Homo sapiens: one gene and its partner. The protein of the gene in region 2 purifies or fractionates together with the protein of the main gene of each other region. This does not show direct contact. Each region holds a gene or a part of one and is shown on either strand. Other genes may lie near its edges. The genes, in order: TRIM11 and PTPRR.

Region 1 (9,265 bases), on a different chromosome or scaffold from region 2:
CTGTGAGTTTGGAGCTGGCAGTGGCAGGGCACAGAACACGTGGCTGGCTGCCCAGGTCCTTGGCAGGTCCCCTCCTGGAGTCATCTCCCCACCTGGGGCCTCCACACCTACCTCGAAACCTCCGCAGTGTCTCTACCAGTCCCGGGACCCTGCACACGGTCCTCAGCTCCATAGGCACAACTTCTGGGGGCTGCAGCTTCACATCCTGGACCCTAGAGGGGACAACCCAGGTGTTGTCGCCATGGCCAACAGCTGGGTCCCACCCCACTCCCTCCTGCCCCCCCTCCAGGAGAGGCTGGGTTCGTACCTGCGCAGGGCGTCCTTGATGTCCTATGTGGGGAGGAGAAACAGCACACTCGGTGTCAGTGACCATCGCTTGCTCCTGGAGTCCCCTCCCCGCCCCTGGAGCCTCGCCCCGTCCCCCTCTCCTACATTTGAGCGTCAGGCAGCAAAAACACACACAGGGGGCCATAAACCACCCGCAGCAAGGCTCAGACACAGGAATGCTGGACAGAGGCTCTGACATGTGTGCCAGGAGGCATCACCAATGGGGTGCAGCCCAGCCCTGCGGACCAAGGCCCACTTCTGCCTGACACTTGGATGTAGGGCATCTGGCTGTTGGCTCACTCACCCAGAGCCCCAAGTGGGCGCCTCTGGGTGCCAAGGACAGGACAGGCACACATCCCAGCCTTCAGCATAGGGGCACCTCCACCCCAGCTGGAGCCCAACCCTGTGGTTGCACTGCTTCCTCTCCCAGCTCCACCTGCCCTGCAGGCTCCCTGCTCAGCCCCACTCTTGGGCGTGCGTCCTTCCTGTGTCACTGCCTGATACGTGATAGCATCTGACTCCATGTTAGGGCCCGAATTGTGTCCATCCCGCCAAATCCGTATGTTGAAGCCAGAAACTTCAGGACTTCAGAACTTGACTATTAGAAAAAAGGGCTTTTAAAGAGGAAATCATAGTAAAATGAGGCCATTAGGGTGGGCTGCAATCCAAAATAACTTGAGTCTCATAAGAAGGGGCGACTAGGACACAGACACCCACAGAGGGGAGACCCTGTGAGGATACAGGGAAGAAAAGGCATCTACAGGCCCAAGAGATAGGCCTCAGGGGGAACCAGCTTTGACCTCAGTCTTCCAGTGTGCAGGACTGGGAGACAATCAGTCTCTGCTGGGGAAGCCTCCTGGCAGGTGGTACTAAATGTGGCAGCCCGAGCTGGCGTGATACACCCAGGTATTGGAACATCAGCTCTTAGGAGACACGGTCTTGTATCTCTTAGAGCAGTCTTCAGTGCACTGCAAGGATTTAACCCACACTGTCAAATAGACGATCCCACACCATGTTCATTCTAACACACGTGGTGCCAGCTACCAGGCCAGGATGCAGAGGTCAGTAAGACATAATCCCAGACAAGGGTTTCCCTACATGTAGGAGAAATGGCAAAGGAAGATTTCCACACATACGGGTAGTTAATTCTGTCTAGGGGGACAACAACACACTCTAGGCCCCAAAAATTTTTTAAAAAGGAGGCCAGCACTTTGGGAGGCCAAGGCAGGCAGATCACTTGAGTCCAGGAGTTCAAGACCAGCCTGGGCAACACAGCAAGGTCCCATCTCTAAAAAAAAATTTTAAAATTAGCTGAGCTTGGTGGTGTGTGCCTACAGTCCCACCTACTCAGGGGACTGAGATGGAAGGATCGCTTCAGCCCAGGACATCGAGGCTGCAGTCATAATCACATCACTGTACTCTAGCCTGGGCGACAGAGTGAGACCCTGTCTCAATAAATAATTCATAAATAAATAAATAAAGAGGAGACTCTTGGTAGGGTTCTGAAGCCCAAGAAGAATTTGTTGGTAGACACAGGGGGAGTGCGCAGGGTGAGGGAGGGGTGTGCACAGGGCAGGGGCAGATGGTGCTGGTGTGAGCAAGGCAGCTGGGAGCAGCTCCACCTTGGTTATTCTACCTGGGGTGGGCGGCCCACCCCTGGTGTCATTTGGAAACAGGTGGTGGCTGTCACAAGGCCGGGTGCAGGGGCGGCAGGAGAAGGGCTTGGGGGTAGAGGAGAACCTTGGCCTCGACAAGGGGGTTTGGTCTCTGCACAGAACACGGGCCCTCCAGGGGCAGCATTGACTTGAACAAAACCACTCTGCGGCTACAAGCAGGGCCTGCTGAAGGGGGCAGCCAGGACCCCAGAGTCCATAGCAGCCAGGGCCCCAGAGTCCACAGCAGCCAGAGCCCCAGTGGGTGGATTCCTGGGAGTCACTCAAGCCTTTACCTCCACTGTGCAACCCCTGTCCATTCGGCCTGGGTGCTGGGAACCCGGGTTGGGTTCCCCTACCCAACCGGGGGCCAAGGGTGCAAAGCCATCCCCACCTGTCCCTCTCAAACCAGCACACAGCTCACATCAACACAGAGCTGCTGAGGCTGCTCTCCTGCAACCCCCATGTGGGCAGACCCCCACAGCATGCAGGCCATGTGCTGGCAGGTTGGGGGGACAGGAGGGACCTCCCTGAAGCCTTGTAGCCAGGCCAAACCTGGGCAGGGAGCTTGGCCAAGGCATGGACGGGTGGGCCACTCAGCGGGGTGAATGCAGGTGGGTGTATGAGACCCAACACCCACCCACCCGCCCACATGCCACAATGTCTCAGCTGAAAGCCCAAATTGCATCTTCACACAAACCCTGTGGGTCCCCATTTCCAGGTCAACTCACCTTCCTTCTAAACCCTTCCTGGCTTCTCCAACACCTGTCCTCTCTGCCCTCCCTGAGGGCTCCTCCTCAGTCTTCTGGGTACCTCCCCACCCCACAATTTACTGACCACAGGACCCTCTCCTAATATTCCTCAGTCTTTCTACAGACGCTAGCCGAGCGTCCTTCCCGCTTCCCAGGCTCAAAGCCAGCTGATGTCCAAGCTGGTGCACGCGGCACACGGAGTGGAGGAGCAGATGCTGCAGACTTGGAGGTGGGGGAAACTACCTACTGGGTACAGTGTGCACCATTCGGGTGATGGCTACACTCTGACTGCACTTGTACCCCTTAAATCTACAAAAAAAAAAACAAAAAAAAAAAAACAAAAAACAAAAAAACAGAAAAAAGCTTACAATAGAAATGACAATCGAAACCAGGAGCCGGTGCCTGGACTGATGTTCTGCTGGGCTCCAGAGGCCGGCAGCAGGTCACCCCCTGTGCAAAGCCGCCCAGCCACATCTGCAGCATTGTGGGCTCCACCTGGGTCTGGCAGCCCTGCCCCACCAGTGGCTGAATTCACTCACACACGGCCTCTCTCCTCTGTGGGAGCCAGAATTGCCCAGGGGCCCATTTCCCTCTGAATCTTGGGGCCCCTTGAGTCTACACCATGCTGGGCATGGAACACGTTCTCCATTTTGTGGGAAAAACATCCAGCTGAACCCCACGGGAAGATGATAGCAGACACTCCCAGCCCACACGGGGCCTCTCAGCATGGGAGTGCCGTCAGTCCTCATCAGTGCACGCTTGCCAAGCGGAGAGAGCTGACTCCAGGCCCCCTGACCTGCCGCCAGGCCACAGGCCAGGGCGTCCACTGGTTCTGGTTTGGGGGTGCACCAAGGAAAGCCCAGGCCCAGGGGGCCGGCTCAGGGAGTGGAGCCCACACATGGGAAAAGACTCTCCTGGAAGCAGAGGAGGAGGAGACTGCCCCCCATAATGGAGATGCATGGGGTGTGCCAGCGGGGTGAAGACAGAGTGAAGGGCGAGGACTTCCTGCTGGGGACACCATGGCAGGAATCCTATGGGAGGCCCAAGGTGGTCCCAGCGAGCACATGCCCACTCTGCTGTGCCCACAGGGAGCAGCAGTGTCAGTCAGGACGAGATGGAGTGACCTTATGTAATCACTTAAGAAACATCAACTGTTTACATCTACAGAGGAAAATTGATTTTCCCTTTCTCGGCACGTGGGTTTTGGGGGTGGGACATCTGTCCTGCTGCTGACTCAGCATTTCACAGGCAACAGCCAGGCACATCCAGCCATGCCATTCACCTCTCAGCCCAGACAACCTCTCTGCCCCTGCTTCTTGCACTTTCTGGTTCTCCCTCCCCCAGTGTGGCCAGGCCATGCCCGTGTGGCCACCATGGCTGCTCCCCGCCCAGCTCACCTGCAGCAGCCCCAGAGCAGGCAGCTGGCAGCGGCCCTCGAGCTCGGCGATGAGCTCAGCTAGGTGGGCGCTCTGCTGGCCTAGGTGGGCTGCGCCCTCCCGCAGCCGGGGCAGCACCTCCAGCTCCTCCTCCTCCAGCCTCTGCAGCAGCTGCTGCTCCTCCTCTGCCAGCAAACGGCGAAGACGCTCGAACTCACCCAGCACGTTCTGCCGCTGGCTCTCCACCATCTTCTGTGGAGCCCAGGGAGAAGGACAGCTGAGGCCAGACCCCAGGCCCAGCCAGACCCCAAGTTTGGTCAGACCCCAAGCCCACCCAGAGGCCTGGCTGCACCCAACCCCACCCCCGGGGCCTGCTAAAGCCAAAGCACAGCACCAGGTGTGGCAGGACCCCAAACCCACCACCTGGTGCTGGCCAGACCCCAAACCCACCTGTGGCACCTCCCAAACCCCAAATCCACCACTCAGGGAGAGCCAAATCCCATTCTACCACACAGGACTGGCTAGACCCCAAATCTAAACCCAGGGCCGACTAGATCCCAAATCCACTATCTAGTCCCTCCCCAACTTCCAAATCCACCCATTGGCTTGGTAGAACCCTGCATCTACCACCTGGGGCCAGCTGGACTACAAATCTACCACCCAGGGTCCCTCCTGACCTCCAAATTCTCCCCTGGGGCTTCCCAGATCCCAAATCCACCACCCAGAGCCTCCCAGACCCCAAATCTACCCCAGAACTGGACAGATCCCAAATCTACTCCTCAGGATGGCTGAATCCCACATCTATGACCTAGTCCCTCAAAACCTCCAAATTTACCTCCAGGGCCCAGACCCTAAATACACCTGAGAGTTGCCACCCAAGCATGCTGGGACCCCAGGATGGGGCCCTTGCAGTATGGGAGCCCACGCCCACGACCTGGCAGGACAGGTGCACGTGGGAAAGGACCAGCCCTTCAGTGGGCTCGGTGGGGCCAGGCTGAAGCAGTGACTGGTCCTGGGGCGCCAAGGGCAAGTGTGCCTGGCCAGCATCGCCCCCTGGGGTCTCCTATACAGGACCTTCACCCCCTACCCTGCCACCCAGGACCCTGGGAGCCCCAGCACCTGCCTGCCACAAGACGCAGGTCTCATCCGCCTGGGCTTGGAACAGCAACGCATCCTGCATCTGCTTCCGGAGATGCTCCAGTGACTTCTCCAGCTTCGCCTGCGGGAGAGGCCAGGCAGGACCATGAGACATGAGTCCTGTCACAGAAGCCTGCCCTTTTGCACCTGACACCCTGTCCCCTCCTCAAAGACAATGGGGACAAACTGAAATCTGCCTGGTGAATCAGGGAACTCAATGCCCTCCAATAAGCGTGAGCCCTCATGGTAGGTGGGCAGCCTCTTGCCAGAGGCTGACAGCCCCAGCCACATTCTTTCCTTTTTCTCATATGGGGCATTTCTAGTCCTCGACCTTGCTACCCTAGCCCAGGCCTCACCCCCCTTTGCAAAGCTACCTCAAGGGTTCTGGCTGCCCACCCCATCTGTCCCCAAGCTGGCTCTGAAGGTGCTGAGCTCTCCTGTTCCCAAGCCAGTGTCTACTCCTCCTCCTCTTCCTTCTCACCTGCTGGCTCACATAAGGGCCTTGGACCAAGCCTATGCTGGGGTCCAAAAATTCTGCCCTATGCCCCCACAAATTCATAGGTTGAAATCCCAACACCCAGTGTGATGATGTTAGGAGGCGGGGGCTTTGGGAGGTGACTAGGTCAGGAGGGCAGTGCCGCCACAATGGGATTAGTGTTATAAAGGAACCCTCGCCCCTTTCACCATATGACAACACAGTGAGAGGGTGTTGTCTGTGAACCAGGAAGCACCCTCACCAGACACCAAACCTGCCAGGGCTTGATCTTAGACTTCCAGCCTCCAGAGCTGTGAGTCTCCAGCTTGTATACATCTGCCATGTGCAAACCATGGTGTTTTGGTAGGACAGTCAGCACGGACAGACATGCCTGGCTACCCACCCTATCTTTTCTCCAAGCCACTCGGGACCTTGTGCATTTTCAGCTTCATCAGCTATCACTGTAATAAGCTCCAGGATGGGTACACCTCCATTCTGCTTTCTTGGTCCTTAATTCTCATTCCCACGGTTCCTCATGCTGTGCATACCAGGAAGCAGTGAAAATCCTGTACACAAGCTCACTGTACTGTGTGTGCTTGGGGTGCCCTGAACCCACTTCTCGAAGGGTCTGCTCACTTCCACCCCATCTGACACCCTTATCAGCAACGGGCCCTGTGCTGGCCACACCTCTTTGCTTCTCAGCCACCCCAAGTCTTGGCTCTCATCTCTCGCTATCCACGCTCTGGAAGGATGGAGGTGCTGGGAGGGTCCAGAAGTCTGCCCCGGTAGCAGAGCCAGGACTTCAGCCCAGCTGCCTGGCTCCAGGTGCTCACTTTAGTTCACCACTTGGCCTCACGATTCGGGAAGACCGCTGGAGCACCAAGGACATGTCCAACTGCTTTACTGTCTCTGCCTAGGCTCAGCTCTCACGTGAGCTACAAGAACCCCAAATGGCGGTCCCTGTCCCCAGGCCTCTCTCCTCACTGCTGCCGACCTGTTCCAGAAAACTCAGGCCTGGCCCCTGTGACCCCAACCCCACCTCAAACACTTGGCCCAGTGCCTCTCACTTCTCCCTCAATGCCTCAGTCCCTACGGGACATTTTCAGTTTTCTTTTTTTGAGACGGAGTCTCGCTTTGTCCCCCAAGCTGGAGTGCAGTGGCACGATCTCGGCTCACTGCAACCTCTGCCTCCTGTGTTCAAGTGATTCTTCTGCCTCAGCCCCCTGAGTAGCTGGGATTACAGGTGCCCATCACCACACCCAGCTAATTTTTGTATTTTTTGTACAGATGGGATTTCACCATGTTGGCCAGGGTGGTCTCAAACTCCTGACCTCAGGTGATCCGCCCACCTCGGCCTCCCAAATTGCTGGGATTACAGGCGTGAGCCACCACACCTGGCCAACGTTTTCAGTTTTCAACACTAAGGTTACAAACAGCATTTGATCAGATGGAATGGGCTGTAAAGCAGCACAACATACCCAGCATGGCAAAGATCTTGCATTTCAGGTACCTGCATCTTTGTGTCTCTGGCCAGATCAGAACAGAAACCTCTTACCCTGCGTGTAGTCAGAACTGGGATGCTGGGGCTTGGTGCAGGCCTGGGATCTTCCCTGGCCTCCTCCTTCCTGTGGCAAACCCCCTCCCCACACAAGTGCCATCTGACACACAACCCAGAGAGATCTGGGGGCCATCTTCTCTCTCCCATGGTGCTGCTTCCTGGAACTGGAGCTTACTGGGACTTCCCTGTTTACCACCTCGGGGCAACCCAGCCTGGGGCTTGTTCAGCTGTCATGACCCCAGGTCAGGGCCAGGCAAGGAGTGAACCTGTCATGGAGCTAATGGGCCCCAGCTCTGGCAAGTGGACACACAGCCCCATAGGTGGGACTGAGCTTTCTAGGCCCATGGGGGCAGGTAAAAGCAGTTTGCTGTGGTTAACATAACCTAGGCTCTAAGGCAGTGAAGAACAGGATGTCATCCCCAAATATACCGCTGTGGTACAAGAATTATTCTGAGTAAAAGCAGATGCAGGAAGAGCTCTCTGTACTCCTATCTGCCTAAAAGTAGGGTATTCATTCCCCATGAGAAAGGCACCCTCTCTCTACCAGGAAGAGGAGGGCACTCTAATCCTGGGAGATGATTCTGCCTAAACAGACCTTACTACAATGACCATTATCTTGTGTTAATTCTTCCCATCTATTTCCTAGTCACTTTCCCACAATTTATCAGTCCTAGACGCCCAATCCCATTTCTGTGTCCAGTCACTTCTCCACAATTCACAAACCTTTGCTGAAATACGCTTTTCTATGAAGTTCTTGTGCATGTGAAACTTAAAATATTAATCAAATTGTATGATTTTTTTTCCTGTTAATTTGTCTTGTGCCAGTTTAATTTGCAGCCCTGAGCCACTGAACCTAACAGGGTAGAGGGAAATTTTTTTCTTCACCTGCAAAAGAAAGGGTTAAGTGCTATCCCATGAAACTATATCGAGTCAACTCTATAGAGCTATTGGGCACTCTCTGCACCCATTGGGGTAATTGGTGTCACAAGGGTAATTCTGCTGGGCTAACATGTTTCAGGTGTAGACATTCCTGCATGGGCAAAGAAAAGAAAACCCAAATGAATCTGTGTCTGAACAAGCCCACGGATATGGCTCTAAACCACCTTTCTGCTAAAATCCAAAGCAGAAGGGGACAGATTCAGATTTATTCTAGTATCCCAGAAGTTTGCTCTGTGATAGGGACAGATCAAGCTCAGTACTGATTCTAACACTGCCTTAACTGCTCATCTGGCACACACAAGTGACCATGATGCAACACACAAAGTGCAATCAAGAAAGCTCCAAAGATGCTGCCATCTGCCCCACACGTAGGCTCCCAGGAGCACACCTGCAGCAGGTCAGCGAGGAAAGAGGACAGCGGGAGGGAGCGCAGGCCAGGGAACGTGTGCCCCAGGCCCTTCAGCTCGGGTTTTATTTGGGTTTTAAGCAGCAAGACAAGGGGAGAAAAGGCAGGCTGAGCCCTGGCATCTCAGATGGCAGAGATGGCTCCCAGTACCCCACCCAGAAATGCAGGGCAGCCCTGGAGGGGAGGTTAGAGAGGAAACGACTGTGTCCCCCTCATCCTGCCCAGTCTGGGGCTTTCCCAGGACTTAAGTACTGACCTGCTAACACAGTCCCTGCAGGGAGTCCATCTAGGATCGGCCACCTCTGAGGTTCTCCCACTTTCCTCTGATTCCAGCTCCTTGCTGGCCAGGGTATGGCCACATTTTCCTTGCCCCCACTCCACCACCTTCCACCTTCCACCTTCCTCTCTTAGCCTCTATCTATGAGAGGTACGCCCCTCACCCCCGAGAGCAGGGTCTCATTGGCGGCCATGGTCCCAGCCTCAAGGGGCCTGGTTGAAACAGGCTGTGTCATGAGCCCCCACAGCCACCCTGCGCGACACCCCCCTCACAGGCCCACAGCAGGCTGCATCCTGAGCTCCCCGCCCTAGACAGAGACAGATTACTCCCGGAGCAGTCCCCCAAACCTCCCACCCGCCCAGGCCT
Region 2 (17,125 bases):
GAGTTCAGCACACAAGTACACTACAAATAGCATCATGCCCATGGGACACAAACTTATCTTATGGAGTGTATTTACATAGAAAATTTTCTGTCCCATCTCCATTTCCTTGTTGTCAATAAGTGTAAATTGCACTAAGGTGGCAGTAGTAAAGTCAATTACCTTCTTTATGGTCATGAAGATGAGATATAATCTCTTGGTCAATGTAAATTAATTTATCACAATTCATTTTAACAAATATATTTAATATATGTATTCATTCATTGAACACTTACTGATGCCATATTAGGTAACAAGCATAGTTCTAGGGAATAAGTATATAGAAATAAAGCTGCAATTGTGTTATTGTTCTCAAAAAACTTCAGTATACAGGTTAAGTACATTGACAGGGGAATATACAGGATTGAAAAGGGAAATGTAGGAGAGCTACTTGAATGAGGTGAGTCATCCAAAAAAAAGAAGATTCTCAAAGTGGGCTATGCCTGATCAACATTTGAAGTTGGAGAAAGAGTCATCTAAAAAAAGGAGCAGAGTATTGGTATTTAAGAGAAATAGAACAGTATGTGAAATGATTCAAGACATGGCAAACCAAAGGAAATTTTGTCTTAGTGTGATATTAGTGTGCAAAGGAGGGCAAGATGAGAAGACCTCATCGCAAAAGACTGCCTTCCTAATGAGTTTGGAGTTTATTCTAAAAGAAAAGGAGATAGCTGTATTAAAGAATTTTTTGGAGAAAGAATATGATCAGGTATGCTTTTAAGAGTTTCACCTCCGACATTATTATAAAGAATAAATTTGATAGGAGGTCATCACAAGATATTATGTGAGAAATAAGGATCTGTCTCAAGGCAGTGACATGATCATGGAGAGTGGAGAACATCTTATGAGAAGAGTTTGAAACCTTTAAGATGAAAGTAGCAAAGGGATGATCTAGGATCAATTATTTGTTTCAGACCTGGGTCATTGTGAAGAATCCTGGTGTTATTCACAATGTTAGGGAATATTTATCAGAGTAATTGTGTTGAGAAGTGTTGAGTAAAAATAGTTGTATATAAGATTATTGTGGGGCCAGGTACTGTGGCTCACACCTGTAATCCCAGCACTCTCTGAGGTTGAGGCAGGAGGACTGCTTGAGCCCAGGAGGTCGAGGCTGCAGGGAGCCATGATTGCACCACTGCACTCAAGCTTGGGCAACAGAGTGAGGCCCTGTCTCTAACAACAACAACAGCAACAACAACAACAACAAAAACAAAAAGATTACTATGGAATATACAATGACTTCTAGGTAATTTTAAATATAGAACCAGAGTTCAGGGGAGATAACTGAGATGGAAATGTGGATTTTGGAATCTTTGACGTGCAAGTCTGAGTATAATTATCCAGGGAGATTGTATACAGAGAAAAATAACAAAAAATCAATGACAAGCTGTAGAGAGCACTAACCATTAAATAATACACAGCAGAAGACCTAAAAGTACAAATTGAGAAATGGCTGGAGAAATAAGAGGGAAGCTAGGAAGTAATGACTGTCTGTGGAAGTCAAGTGAGGAAAAATTTTAAAATTCAGAAAGGGGTCAAAATATATAAGTACTATAGAAATGCATTGATAACAAGAACATACATTACAATAACCTCTTTAATTATGTTCAACCATAGGATGATAGGATGAGGACGGAAGCTGATAGAGAAGTAGGTGAGAAATAAAGAAGAAAAGGCTGAATGTGCATAATGCATCCCAGAATTTTTACAAGGTGTTAGGTAGGATGTGATTTTCAATGGAATATGTGAGGTGCTATTCTATTGGAGGTGCTAGAAATATGTCATCTCCAATATACATATTCCTGTGTCTCTTAAGTACCAAAGAAGCAAATCAGTTTTTTCTAGTGTATTAGACTCTCTGTTTGTAAATCAGCTGATCCCTGTAGCCATTCCTACATGTACAAGGCATTTCACTGAGAAGTGAAAATGTAGCCAATCAGCAAAGAATTTGGGCTGCACAATATCTGGCAATCAGTTTGAAAGACTTTTTTCACTGAGTTGATTAGTAGTTCTGGTCTAACACAAACCCATCCTTTATTGCCCTTCAGTTCACAATGACAGCAAAATCTGTTAGAGATAGTGTGTTTTGGGGGCATGTGAGGCAACATGAGTTTTGGACAAATGAGCTGTTTAAGTCCATTCCAGAAGTGGCTAAGTGGACTATGTGTGTTTTTTGTGGGTGTTAAGAAGATATTAAATGCAAAAAGAAGAGACCAGAAATATCACTGTATTACATTATTTATTTAACTTATTTATTTAATCTTTAGAAAGATTTTATGTCAGGAACTGCCCCCAGGTACTAGGTAGCCCAAGACCTCTAATACATGCAATAATAAACAAAACAGGCAAAAATATGTGCCCTAAATGGGCTTACATTTTAATACAGAGAGGGGAAACTACAATAAAAAAAGTAAAATATATTGTATGTTGGGTGGTGAAGACCTCTGGGGAAAGAAAAGTTAGGCAGGGAAAGGGTGCTAGAATTTTTATCTGGGTGATGGGGGGAAGGGAAAATGAAATATGAAATAGAATAACCTCATTAACAAGGTAATATTTAATTAAAGTTCTAAAATTATTGTGGGATTAAGCTGTGGAGACACCTGGAGAAAGAAAAAAGCAAAACAGTATGAAAGGGTGAGTGCCTGGCATCTTCTAGAAACAGAAGGATAAATATGGCTGGAGAGAGGTAAAAAAAGAAGAAAGTAGTGAGAGATAATATCATAGAAATAATGTGGAGAGAGACTCTAGACCATTGTAAGGTCTATATTGAGTGATTTTCAATAGGAAAAACAAATTCTGGAGTTCTAAGGAACATCTTAAAATCTTAAAATATATCATTTACCTGTTAGTCTATCGTTTCTTTTGAGGGTGGTACTTCTGCAAATCATCTCCCAGATCTTCTTGGCACCATCATAGAATACCTTTCTTCTCAGAGACTAGAGAAATTGACTATGCACTTCTCTGAGAGATTTTCAATAGGAAAAACAAATTCTGGAGTTCTAAGGAACATCTTAAAATCTTAAAATATATCATTTACCTGTTAGTCTATCCTTTCTTTTGAGGGTGGTACTTCTGCAAATCACCTCCCAGATCTTCTTGGTACTATCATAGAATACCTTTCTTCTTAGAGTCTAAGGAAATTGACTATGCACTTCTCTGAGAGTGAAGAGATAGTTTCAGGAGATACATTGAAGGCAGTCTTTGTGCCATTCAAAAAGGCTGATAGCAAGAACAACACAGAAATTTGAAAGAACCTTTTCCAGAACTCAAAGAGAAAGCAATGGATTGAAATCAGTTTCTGTATTTTGTTAGCAAAACATTCCCTAGGAAAAAGAAAGCTTTCACATGAGAATTTTTAATATATCTCAAAAATGTACTCTTTTGCAACTAAAATACAACACTATAAATAATATCTCCTCAAATGGAATATGCTTCTTTGGACAAAGGAAGAGGAGAAATGCTGAAGAAAATAAGCTCTGTGGATCTTCCACATAATATTTTTTTACCATTCGTATTATTGTGGTGGCTTTTAATTGCCTCCTTGAATATTCCTGAAGTGGTATTTTCAACTGGAGTTTATATATTAAACTGGTTCACGAAAGAGTAAAGAATAAGGACAGTTAGGTAAAAAGTATTTTGCACCACTAACTTAATCAATGGTGGCCTCACCTATTGTAGAACCAGTGTATAATTTTATATAGTATGCAACCACGGGTCTGGAAACCTGGGCTTTTATCCCGACTATGCTATTAACTACCACTTTAATACTCTAGATCTTCATTTTCTCACCTGTAAAATAAGCAGTTGGATGGACAATAACCACAACTTCCTTGTTAGGTGATCTATAAAAATCGGCTGCCATGGGTAGAGTAGTGTCCAGCTTCTCTAACAAGAACCATGCTTAGTAATCCTTTAGTGTTAATTTACCCAGAGATGCCACTTACACAGCATGGTACCCACTCCTCATTTTTCTCCCACAGCTATTATAGACCACAGTACTTCTCCCTAGCCAGAATGCGAGTCATAATCTTCTTTTTCCCCCCGATGGTGTCTTAGGCAACCATAAGCAAAATAATGGGAGATGGCACTCAAGTTGCAAGCAGTTTGCTACTTATCATTACAGGCATGGTTATATTGAAGGCAACAGTTCCTAATATAGCTAAAAAGAACACTTACATCCCGTTAGCACATTCCTCCCATCTCTAAAGCATTATAAGGTGTCATCAGTTCCACCAGCATAAAGCAGTTGCTGATACCCTGGGCGTAACCAAAATGGATCAATTAGCTTTACAGTTAAAGAGGCCTGAATGTATAGAATTCATTTCCCTTCTTTATGAAGTCAGCCTCTGTTCTGAGAGAAAAGTCTTCCATAAAAGTAACAAACTCACACCTTCAACAAGTAGAGATTAATATCTTGATTTCTTGATCTTTGTCATCCCATCCACTTATTTTCTTAATCTCCAAATGTATAGAAGCTTAGACCAAGGAGCTGTGTTTGTTTTAGTTCTGATGAAAAGCCCTAACAATGTTATTAGATAACTGTGATAAATTTTAATCTGATGACAGCTTGTGACCCACAAATTGCTGTTTAAAATTAAAATGCATTTAAAATGAAATTGGCAAGAGAACTATAATATTAAACTTACAATCTGCTGTGATAAAACACCAATGTATTTTACTATATTAAATATGAATACAATGAATAGTATCTTGCAATTGAAATATAAAAATGTCCTTAAATGCATTTTCTTATTAAATTAAAATTGGTTGATTAATCTTACTTTTTATCTTTGTTTTGCAAATTAAAAAGTTGAAGTAGAGATGGATTGGATTGGCTTTGGTAATATACCCTTTGGCAGAACTCCAGGTAAAATCTAGGGCTACAGGCTTCTAGGTTTCTCATCTGATGAGCAAAAGTCCTCATTTTTCTCATCCCGAATATTCATCTACAGTAAATCAAGACATGTTTTTCACATGCTTCAGTTTATTTATAACTTTTAAGATATAATTACTCAAGATGTATCAAATGTGATCTTTAAACTTTTTTATATGTTAGTTTTGAAAAAATGACTACACTGATATTGTTGGCAGACCAGCTAAATCATTGCTACCTTAGTAAGAATTGAGATTTTTCTGTAATGAATGTTTGTGTCAGTCTATTATTAAGCAATACTATAAATAAAACTCAACCCAATGTGTATGTTTTCATCCCACATTTCAGCATTGAAGAATTGTATGTGGTAACGAAATAATTCACTACAGCTGTTTGCAAATAATTTAATAATCAAGTCATAGCTATTTTCTACTTCTCAAAATGTGCCAAAGAACTATTGAAAACTCCACAATATAACATCATAATTATAACAATTAACATGTGTATTTAATAATAGCTTTAATAATCCTATGCATTATTTGCTCAAAAGATTCATGATACATTTAAATAATAGCGTTAGCTGGAATAAGAAAGTACCATATTTCACTCCTACTATTGTACACAGAGAATAAAATTCACCCACTCTTTTAAAAAAGATACTGCAAGGATTGTAATTTCAGAACAATTATTTTTACTCATTACCCCTAGAACATAGTATACACTCAGCAAATGTTGCTTGAAGGAATGAATGGATATGTGTGATTGGATGAGAAGCACACTCAGGGAAAATGCCTCGTCTCTGGTTGTTACAGGACTACTGCATGGACAACTGCTGTCACAGTAGGGTTTCTAAAATCTCCCTGCCATATTTTATTTTGGTTCATGTGTGTGTGACAATGATAAGGAATTCAGCCTAGCAAGTCTGTCTGCATTAAATAGAGGTGCTATGTATGCAAAAAGCAGGGACACCACATATAATATCTCTCAGGTACTTCCCAAGGTTTGCTTCCTCACGAGACTTGATATTGATTCTGGTGCCTCAAATCTATTTATATTTGGGAGCAGTCTCACTGTTACTCTTGGTTACACCTTATCAAATCTGTCCGAGGGACAGTGCCTAACCCAGGGTTGTCAGCTTTGGAACTGTAATTGTTTTTTTTTTTTTTTTTTTTTTTTTTTTTTTTAATATGCCAGCGGACGCTAGCCACGGTGCTGAAAGAGACAAGAGGATTCTATTTGAAACCTTTTCTTCCTCTTATTGGCTTAGAAAATTCGAGTGACAAGAGCAGGGGCCAAAGGAGCCTGGTGCAGCATCACTAATGTGAACCATGTATTTCGATCTTTTGGGCGGAGATGTGGTCCATCAGGTTACAGCCAATGCCTTCCTATGAGCGCTCGCTAGACCAAGAGACCTTATGAATGTAGTAGCCGCTGCAGTAGAAAAGGTTACATCTAGCAGGATGTCTTATCCCTCTCCTGAAAAATTGACAGTTAAGTGCATAGCCTAGAAACAAGAGCAGGGAATCTAGACGGAGGGGAGGCGAAGGGGGGAGCAAACCTGTATTCATATTGAAAATGTTCACTATTTTCGTATAAAGTAAAGAAAAATCAAGAGCTAATTTTAGGTTAAGTTTTCGGCCTCAGTTTTCCAACAGGTGCACGACTCCCTCACCCCTTCCCTGTCAGGTACTGTCCTGTTTTACCTTTTTAGAAAGGCTTTCTTCGCAAGGCAAGCTTTTCCTAGAGTCCTTAAGCATGTGCAGTTTCCCATCTCATGCACAGCTCCGGCTCTAAGCCTGGCAACCCCTTACCTGCAGCGTGAAGATTAAGGAGCAGGCACAGCGCAGGGAAGCAGACTGCTCTCCGCATAGTGTTTGCATTGAGAGGTGGAGGAGAAACTCCACCACGACCCCACTTCAGGTAAAGTGCTATTAGAAAGAGCCACCGCCAAGGGTCTTCTAGTCTCCGGGATTCAGGTCCTCGGCTGGGGTTTGCAGAGCAGTCAGTCTGTGGCGCCGACAGAAACCAGCACCAGCTTCAACCTCCCTAAGAGAGGGAGAGAGGAAGAGCAGTAGGAGGTTGCGGGTAAGGGGAACAGAAGCGCTCAGAGGCGGCAAATGCCTGGCCTTCTGGACGCCCAGAAGCCAAGGCGGAGACGGCAGGGTGGACTCCGCGCCAGCCCAGCAGCCCAGCAGCAGCGCCGCGGCTACTGAGCATGCCCAGCGCCGGCCCTCACGAGGCAAGGGAATTTCAAAGTGAAATTCCGCTTCTCCGGGTCTTAGCGGCGGCTTGGAGCAGAGTAGGCTCCATCGCTGGGGTGGTGGTTGGGGGTGGGGGTGGGGGTGGGGAAGGGGGAAGTGCGGGGGAGACACTTGCTGTGGTTACTAGGGACCCAGCGTCCATCACAAATCCGAAGGTGGGGTGTAGCTGAGTGAGAGTAGATGGGGGCACGACCACAGGAGTCAGAGGAGGGAGCTGATGACATTGTCAACCATGCCACCCACCCTACTCTTTCCCCAAATCTTGATTTACACGTGGACCGAGCTCACTGCTGGGAATTGGCATTTGCAGATTGACCAGCTTCCCAGGACTCGCCTACAGGAATAGAGGTGTCTTCCACTGCTGAGCATTCTGGCTGCTCGGGGGAAGCGTTCCCAAGGCAGCTTGCTTGGTGTAAGCAGTAACCATGTATCTTGGGGGTGACTTCGTCCTTCCTACAGCTTCCCCCTCTTTGCTTCTCTTTCCACTCTTTCCAGCTCAATGACTGTATTTAAACTTTCTTCTGACTCAAGTCCTCACAGTGACAGAAAGAAGTGAGAAGATACTTTTAGACTAGTAGAATATATCCATGTAATTGAAGCACAAGAAGGCACCTTTTTGTTTCGTGGAGGTAATTAACTTTAGTTTCCCTTTTACTCTTTAAGGTGAAAGATAATGGATCACGTCAGTGCCTGGACTCATCCGGCCCAGCTCTGTGTCTCTAGGGAGGCTACCACAGTCTGCCATTAGATGGTTTTTTATCCCTCCATCTAAGTCTTTGGAGTGTGGAAAGCCTTATTAGTCATGGCTAATTGCTGCTAGTCAAGTCAAGAAGTCCCTCAGCTAGACTTCTCTTTTAACTATCCCAGGGCCTCTGCCCTTTCTGCCTCTGTGTCTTTATGGACACTGTTGCCTCTTTCCCATTTTCCTCCACTTGCACCACCACCACACTAGTTTTCGAAGGTGTAATGTTGGTCTCACTTTTCCAGAAAGCCCTAACTCTAACTAACTCTAGATTACAGTGATCTTTCTCTTCCACAACACTTGTTTAGCCGTGCCTCATATTATTCTTTCAGACAGTTCATTTATCTGTGGTTTGTTCTACAGCACATTGAAGTCTCCATAAGAACTGCTGAGTTTTGTATTCCATTAACTTGAATAAAGTTGTCCTAGCCAAATAATTGGGGCTAACAAGTGCCCATTGAGTTGAGCTGCACATCTCATTCAGTGCTTTCTTTCTCCATCCTCTGTGAATTGAGACAACTAATGGGAAATAGGCTATCCACCAGAGCTTAAATTAGGTGGGACCTTATAAGATCAGAGAGCCCAGGCGGTACCATTTATTTCTTTTATGATTTATGTCATCTTCAGCTCTGAGAGACAAGGCCAGGAAGCACTCCAACAAGTGGGAGAAGGGGACAATGAGATGTACTTTTAATATCTTGACAGGCCTTCTCTGCTGAAAATAGAGACATATCTCCATGTCTAGCCCCTCTCTAGCAACGTGCTCCACCCCCTACTCCCCCATGCGTGTGGCACACTCCATTTCTGTGGCACTATCATTTCATCCCAAACCACTCTAAGCTGCAACCTCTTCTCCTATTCCTGATTCACTGTCCTCCAGTTTGCTTTTCCCGTATCACTTTCTAACAAACCAAAATAATTACTTATAAAATCTATTGTTTAGTATCTATTTCCCTACTCCCCCCCGCAAAACAGAATTTGAGCTCCAATGTTGAAGAACTTTGATGACTTTATTGATATGTCCCAACTCCCTAGAGCAATGCCTCATGCAAAATAGATACTCAAAAATGAATAAATGAAAATGATAGTTGACAAAGTTCAATACTGACAATTAACTCTTTGAAATTCTTACTGAGTCAACCTTTGAGATAATTTATTTAGCATTCTGTAAAGCTTAGAAGAATAACTCTTCTCATCTAACATCTGTTACTAGAAATGCTGCAGGGCTGGAGGTTAGGGAAAAATAATTGTATCCCACTTACAATAGGTCTATTTTTCTTATTTTCTTGTTTCCTAAAATAACTAATTATCAAACTTACATAGATCTCCAAGAATAAAATATACTTACTTATGGTAATGAAACAATGCTGCAGTAATGTTCTGAACCCCTTCCTTTTCCACAGATAATTCCAACATTTATTGGTGGGGCATTTAAAATTCCCATTATTATAATTGACTATGACTTTGCCAAAAAGCATCCTGCTGGCAATGTATTTTGTTCAGGGCTGCAGGTAGCTGAATTGTTAAACTATGCATGAAAATTCCGTTAGCAGCAAAAATTTCCAATTTCCAATTTGGCTGGATATATCATTAGAATAGTTAGTTCAGCATGGTAAAAATAACCCTGAGTGGGCTGTAATTTTGGTGACTAGACATTCATTATTAATTTACTTAGAAATGATAAAGTAACGAAAAAGGTCATATTCCTATGTGAGTCAATCTAATATCATACTTGTAACGGCTTCAATTCACTTTTTCACTAATTGGCTAATTCACTCATTGCTGTTCGTGAAGTCAAACAGCAATGAATGAATTAGCCAATTAGTGAAAAAGTCAACCACTTAACTCATACAGAAATATTCTGAGTCGATAGGTGCTGTTTTTCCTTAACTGTGATCTAATGCTAGTGAAGGTGACTTGGTGTTTTGGAAAAAAAGCTTGGTTAAAACACTGCATCAGGGTTTTAAAAAGTTAGCTGTAATTCAAAGAAGCATGGAAATTACTATGAGAGAACTATACAAATTAGTAGTGGCCTACAGAGCTATGTCATAAAAGAATCATTTACATTTTACAAGATAAATAAAAAATATCATATGGAATTTTCCTCCACATAAGATGCATAATTTCTTTTTCTTATGAGGTGAGTCTTAGAGAAAATTTATGCAAGAAAGAAGCTTTTCAGAGCCTGCCTTCAAAACAGATTTAATCATTATGAGCATCCATATTTACTTCTCTATAAATGGATGAAAATTATTCATGTCAGCCATCTTTCCTTAAGACACTTTAAATTGAGAAATCAGATCCATTGATTATAAGGATCTCCTACTTAAGTTATTTAGATTACTATTATTTAAGTATAATTATGGCTAACATTGACTGTGCTTCCTGTGTGCCAGGTTCTATTCTAAGCATTTGGATGTCCTATTTAAACATTATAATATTTCTACAAAAGGATACTATAATGATCTCATTTTAGAGATAATATAGTTGAGGCATGGAGAAGTAACTTGCCCAAAATCAAGTAGTAAGTAATCAGTTAAAAAGTAAATTGATAGAATTAAGATGTACATCTGATAATTTGATACCAAACCACTATATTATACTACCTCTAATAACACACACACACACACACACACACAGACACACACACACTCAGTTGTAGGTTGCTCACTAGAATTAGATGATTAGATCAGGGCTGGGCATGAGATGCCTGGCCCCACAGTAAAGCTCTGTGTTGAGGAACACTCATAGAAGACTGTCTCCAGGAGAACAAGAGACACTGCTTGTGGCAGTGGACTCTGGGCCCTAGCATCTAGTGAACAAAGACAGCAAGTAAAATCATGCTTAGAGGAACTGTGTTAGAAAGATGCTTAAGATAGAATGGAGAAGAATGGAGGAAATGATTTCTTCTATGGAGGGTGGGAGCAGAGGAGGGGATGGGCAGCAGGCAAGAAACTGGTGGGCAACAGGAAACGAACTGAGTCTGGCTGGATAAGTAGGTTCTAACTGCTCTACATGAAGAGAAAGGCCAGGGAATTGTGTGAGCCAGTGGCAGAGATATAAAGCAGCAAAATGGATTCAAGGAACTTCTGAACATGTAAGGGAGCAATAGGTAACAGTTATAAACACCTCACTAAGATTTGTTCTGTGCTTGCCCTTTCCCATCCTTTATGCAGCCACTTTATCAATCCCAAAGTCTGTTTCCTTTTGTCTGAGAGCTATCTTTTATAAGAGGAGAAAAGAAGAAAAATAATTTCTTTTTACAAAGTAAATAATTGATGTGAATTAAGCTATATTCAGAGTGGAATATAGCTCAGGATGAAAAGGAATGAATTCAAAATTCACAGATGAAAATACCATGTTCAGGTATATAAATTCACCATTATTATTTTTTAGTATTTTCCCAACCATAACAAGAAGAATGATCTACCCTTTCTCATAAGCATACAGTGAAGAGAACAATGAAATTGCAAGGGGCAATAAGAATAGGGGAGGAAAAGCACTAAAATTCTAAAAATATATATTATCACATTGAAGTCTCACAAGAGCTGTGTGAAGTATTATTTTTTTTTTTTTTTTGTAGTAGAGGAGAAAACTGAAGCTCAGCGAAGCTAGTAATTTGCCTATAGCCATCCAGTTGGTAAGTGGTGAAGCTGGGATTAGAACTCAGGTATGGTGACCCCTAGCACTATGCTGTTATCAGCTGTATTGTACAACATCCCTGCTTAATGACCGAACTTATTTTAATACTTAAATTGAAAACAGTGTTCTTATCCCAAGACACAGACTTCAAGATGGATAACAACAATTACATTTTATAACTTAACACAGTTGTAGTTTTGTTAAATTAAAGCATTTGATACACACACACAAAGGCAGCAATATGTATCCTAAGGAAAAAAATTAGGTACCTAAAACAAGGCAGATATACTTTTCTGTGCATATGTGAATTATGCTATTGTAGTAAAACATAAAATATGAAAAGCAGAAAGGCTATATGTACCTATAGATTCTGCTATTGGTTCATCATTAAAATTTTATTCAAAACGAAGAACAAAGTTTTCTTGGAGCTAGCCCTTGGTACCAATGTATTGTATTGTCATCTATTCTGGCACTGCAAAGGTCAGATTCATCCAAGATGTCAGTAATAGATTTATTTACAAACCTCTGACTCTCCTGCTTTAGCTCTCTGTTTATCCCAAGACACTAATCAGGCTGCACTTATATTATCCATCATCCTGAGCAGCACACAGATGTGACAGCCCTCTGTTATGGCTTAGACTATCTACTTTGAGCATTCAAATACATTTTCTGCAATGGTTGGCCATTCTTTTAGATTTCCTTGAATGAGGCCACTTTGGAACAACTTGTTCACACAATAGCCTGGGACACTAAGTATATCCTGGGATTGTAACTGTGGGTTGATTAGATCATTTAATCTTGCTCTCATTTCTCTACATTATTTTCTCACATAATTACAAGATGATTTAAAAGGACATCTCCCAAATATAGGCCTTAATGTCTCCCTCACTGACTCTTCATTCTTTTTTTTTTTGCATATATATATATCTTTATTATGCCTTAAGTTCTAGGGTACATGTGCACAACGTGCAGGTTTGTTACATATGTATACATGTGCCATGTTGGTGTGCTGCACCCATTAACTCGTCATTTACATTAGGTATATCTCCAATGCTATCCCTCCCTGCTCCCCCTGCCCCACAACAGGCCCCGGTGTTGACTTTTCATTCTTTAAAACTAAAAGTTTAAGGCCGGGCACGGTAGCTCACACCTGTAATCCCAGCACTTTGGGAGGCCAAGGCAGGCAGATCACCTGAGGTCAGGAGTCCAAAACCTGCCCTGGCCTGGCCAACATGGTGAAACCTCGTTTCTATGAAAATTCAAAAATTAGCCAGGCATGATGGTGGATGCCTGTAATCCCAGCTACTCGGGAGGCTGAGGTGGCAGAATCCCTTGAACCTATGAGGTGGAGGTTGCAGTGAGTTGAGATAGCATCATTGAATTCCAGCCTGAGCAACAGAGCAAGACTCCATCTCAAAATAATAATAATAATAATAATAATAATAATAATAATAATATTGAATAAAAGTTTAAACTTTTTAAAAATACTTATTTCTTTCACTCATTCTTGCTGCTGGATGCCTATAATAGAGAATGGGGTGGTTTATTAGTCTATAGTTCGTGGTTGCAAAGCATTTCAGAAGAAATTTTTTTTTCTTGTTAGACACCTGCACCTCTATAACATGAAGAGTTAATCTTACTAAAAATGTCCATTGACTATAACACAACCACTAATACACCCAGACAATGAAGCAGTTGTTTACGGTTTTAAGTTCGACTCATTCATCAGAAACCATATGTGATAGGGCAACACGGGTGCCTATGTTCAGTGAAGTCAAGTCATTTGAAGTCACATTACGGTAGGATATACTATATCGCATACATTCCAAAAACAGTGGAATCATCTGCCGACATTTCGTTGGTATGTTGCTTGATTTCAAATAATTAAACTATATATTGAGTACCTATGATGCATCAGGAAGTATATTAAGTACTTGGGATATATTGTTGAACAAAATAGACTAACATTTTTGCTTTAGCTTAAATTGTAAGTGAAATGTACCTTTAATAGTAAATATAAGAAATAAGTAAATTATATAGTATGATGGAAATTGATGACTGCTATGAGAAACAGAAAAAGTAGATCTAAGTAAGGGGAATTAGGCAGGTGGGGGTGGGGTGGGAGAAGAATATGAGTGCAAGGATTTTGCAGAATTAAGTAGGGTCTTTAAGTGGAGAAAGCGAGCATTGAGAAAGACTTGGAAGTTGAAATTAGCTGAGCAGAAACCTGGTTAAAGAACTTCCTAGGCCGAGGGAATAGCTACAGCAAAGACTCTCATGATTCCATAGATATCTTAACCAATCTGAAAAAAAAACCCCACAGTATCAGAAATAATTTTCAGCATATCTGTAAATATATAAAATATATAAAGAGAAATCCAGTTGGCAAATTGCCAAATTAGTTTAAATGAATATTTTTACACCAGAGATTTTCATTGATTCATGTTTCACTGATTTCAAATACAACTGTGAGATAGCAAAGCCGTTAACAAGATTCAGAAATTGGGACTACCCAAAGCCAACTGATGTACCAACTAAGAATTCTGCTCTTTATTCCATGTTTTTGGTGTAAAATAAACACCTTATTGATTTAGAAATGTGGGTGCCTATTTTGATATTTTATTCATTTTGAGAAACAAAGAAAAACTTTGTGAGCTGCCCTTATACTAAAACCACTAGCAAAAAGTCAAGCTAACATAATATGAATGAGAAATATAAGCAGGAAATGAGACCGGGCGCGGTGGCTCACACCTGTAATCCCAGCGCTTTGGGAGGCAGAGGCGGATGGATCACCTGAGGTCAGGAGTTTGAGACCAGGCTAGCTAACAGGGTGAAACCGTCTCTACTAAAAATACAAAAATTAGCCGGGTGTGGTGGCACATGCCTATAATCCCAGCTACCTGGGAGGCTGAGGCAGGAGAATCGCTTGAATCCAGGAGGCAGAGGTTGCAGTGAGCTGAGATCATACCACTGCACTCCAGCCTTGGTGACAGAGTGAGATTCTGTCTTAAAAAAAAAAAAAAAAAAGAAAAGAAAAAAAATATAAGCAGGAAAAGAATGAGAAAAATGCCCTAGCAAGCATTTTTGTTTTCTCAGCCTCCTGTGTGGCAAATGACATCAGAATATTTGGGTTAGTTATTGTCCAAATGCTGGAGGAAAACAGTTTGACAAATTCCTTGTTTCTTAGGATGGCTTAAGCAAATCATTTTGATACTTTATTATTTTTGGATGAAATAGAAGGTAGCTTCATTTTATTTTTAAGTAAAATTCCTTTTTTATTCAATTTAATGTGATAGGTGCCCATCAAAATACTACCTTACTGTGGCCGGGCGCGGTGGCTCACGCGTGTAATCCCAGCACTTTGGGAGGCCGAGGTGGGAGGATCACGAGGTCAGGAGATCAAGACCATCCTAGCTAACATGGTGAAACCCCATCTGTACTAAAAAAAAATACAAAAAAAAATTAGCCGGGCATGGTGGTGGGCGCCTGTAGTCCTAGCTACTTCGGAGGCTGAGGCAGGAGAATGGGGTGAACCCGGGAGGCGGAGGTTGCAGTGAGCCAAGATCGCGCCACTGCACTCCAGCCCGGGTGACAGAGCGAGACTCCATCTTAAAAACAAAACAAAAACAAACAAACAAAAAAACAAAAAAAACTACCTTACTGTTAATAGAAATAGAAAATATAAACCATTTCTCTTACAAAGGTGTCATTTGGAACCTCTAATCTTGGAAGTACTTTACTTTAGGAAAGATATCTACCCTCAAATTTGTCTTCCAAACTTAAACTAAAATCATATTTTATATTAGGTTTGTATCATAGAGATTAGAAAATGAATTCCTTTCAAAACCAAATTCAGCTCCAAAACTGGAAATAAAATGAAATTTTATTTGAATCAGTCATAAACATAATATATAGAAGCCCAATTTTACCTCACTATTTCTAGAAAGTAGGCAAAAACCAGGATGGTATTTCTGCAGTTTTCCTTCATCTAAATTAATTCTCTTCAGACTGAAATTGAACATTCTAAAGTACAAAATTTTGTAATATTGTGTCTATTGCACAATAGACAATAGAGAAAAAACAAAATAGAATGTGATCTATGGATTCTACCAACTGGTGACAAATACAGCTAATGCTTTGGCATAGCTGGTTTTCCTCTACCCTCATCTTGGGGATATGTGTGTCTTTGCATGCATGTACCTATAATTATTGTTAGTTTTAACATTATTTTTACATCATTGGGATCATGCTATGAATTTGGAAACTATTTCTTTACCTAATAATACTGTGAGACATAATTCCATGTCATTTAAGTTTGTTCACAATCATATTTTTAATTGTTGCAGAGCATCGTGCCATAGCATTCTATCATTGGCTTATTTTTTCAAGCCCTTCCTCAATTAAGGTGAATTGCTTCAGGAGAGCAAGGAAAGACATTCAGATAATGCTCACTTACTGTACAAAATAATGAAAATTATTATATATTTATAATATATTTCCAACATGGCAGTTCTAATCTGGCTCTGGTGAAACTATCACCCCATTAAAAGAAATTATCTAAAGTGTCAAAGCCAGGCATCAAGAAGGGGACATCAGGGATTCTGAGTCATACCTCAATCCCCGGCAAATTAAGGATAATCTAAATGTGTGCCTTCCAATCAGGAACCTGCCTATTTTAAGAATGATGGCTAAAAGCAGAGTTTGAATAAGGAGTCTTCATTTATCTTTTTCATGATCCCTGGATAACTCAATTGACTAACACTGATATAATTACAAAAATACCATTGTGTAAAAAGTACTATAACATGAATTGTATAAAAAAGAGTTATAAGTAATTGTGCTATTTCTTTTATTTTTAAAATTTGTTTATCTTTGCTTCTCATCTTTTTAACTTATTTTTTATTTCTATAGGTTTTTTGGGAACAAGTGGTATTTGGTACATAAGTAATTTCTTTAGTGGTGATTTTTGAGATTTTGGTGCATCCATCACCCAAGCAGTATACACTGAACCCTATTTGCAGTCTTTTATCCTTCACCTCCTTCCTACCGTTTCCCCATGAGTCCCCAAAGTCCACTGTGTCATTCTGATGTCTTTGCATCCCCATACTTTAGCTTCTACATATGAATGAGAAATACTATGTTTGGTTTTCCATTCCTGAATTACTTCACTTAGAATAGTAGGCTCCAATACCATTCAGGTTGCTGCAAATGCAATTAATTCATTTCTTTTTATGGCTGAGTAGTATTCCATCATATATATATATATATATATATATATATATATATATATATATATATACACACACATATATATATATATTTTTCCCCTTTTTTAGGTTTTCTTTTTTGTTTTTAAATTAAAATCTCACTACTGGGTATCTACCAGTAGTGGGAAATATATATATATTATCATATATATGACACATATATAAATATATGATATATATATATGATGGAATTTCCTTTTTATATCTTTTGCCTATTTTCACTGTTTTCGCTTTTCTAGTTAGTTTTTGGAAGTTATATATTCTAGAATTTAGATACTAAACTTTTAATTTCCATTTATGTTGC

What was found.
Region 1: the proteins of PTPRR (region 2) and TRIM11 purify together in Homo sapiens (affinity purification with mass spectrometry; 2 studies listed by BioGRID and IntAct, with this or other methods). This does not show direct contact.

Annotation. Positions count from the first base shown.
Region 1 is NC_000001.11:228,396,836-228,406,100, forward strand, and holds part of TRIM11 (E3 ubiquitin-protein ligase TRIM11), read right to left. Parts: intron 5,327-9,265; coding exon 5,231-5,326; intron 4,360-5,230; coding exon 4,129-4,359; intron 331-4,128; coding exon 308-330; intron 275-307; exon of another isoform or gene 213-274; coding exon 112-212; exon of another isoform or gene 1-111.
Region 2 is NC_000012.12:70,913,613-70,930,737, forward strand, and holds the start of PTPRR (receptor-type tyrosine-protein phosphatase R isoform 1 precursor), read right to left. Parts: upstream 7,127-17,125; 5' UTR 6,779-7,126; coding exon 6,721-6,778; intron 1-6,720. UniProt on the Homo sapiens protein: Sequesters mitogen-activated protein kinases (MAPKs) such as MAPK1, MAPK3 and MAPK14 in the cytoplasm in an inactive form.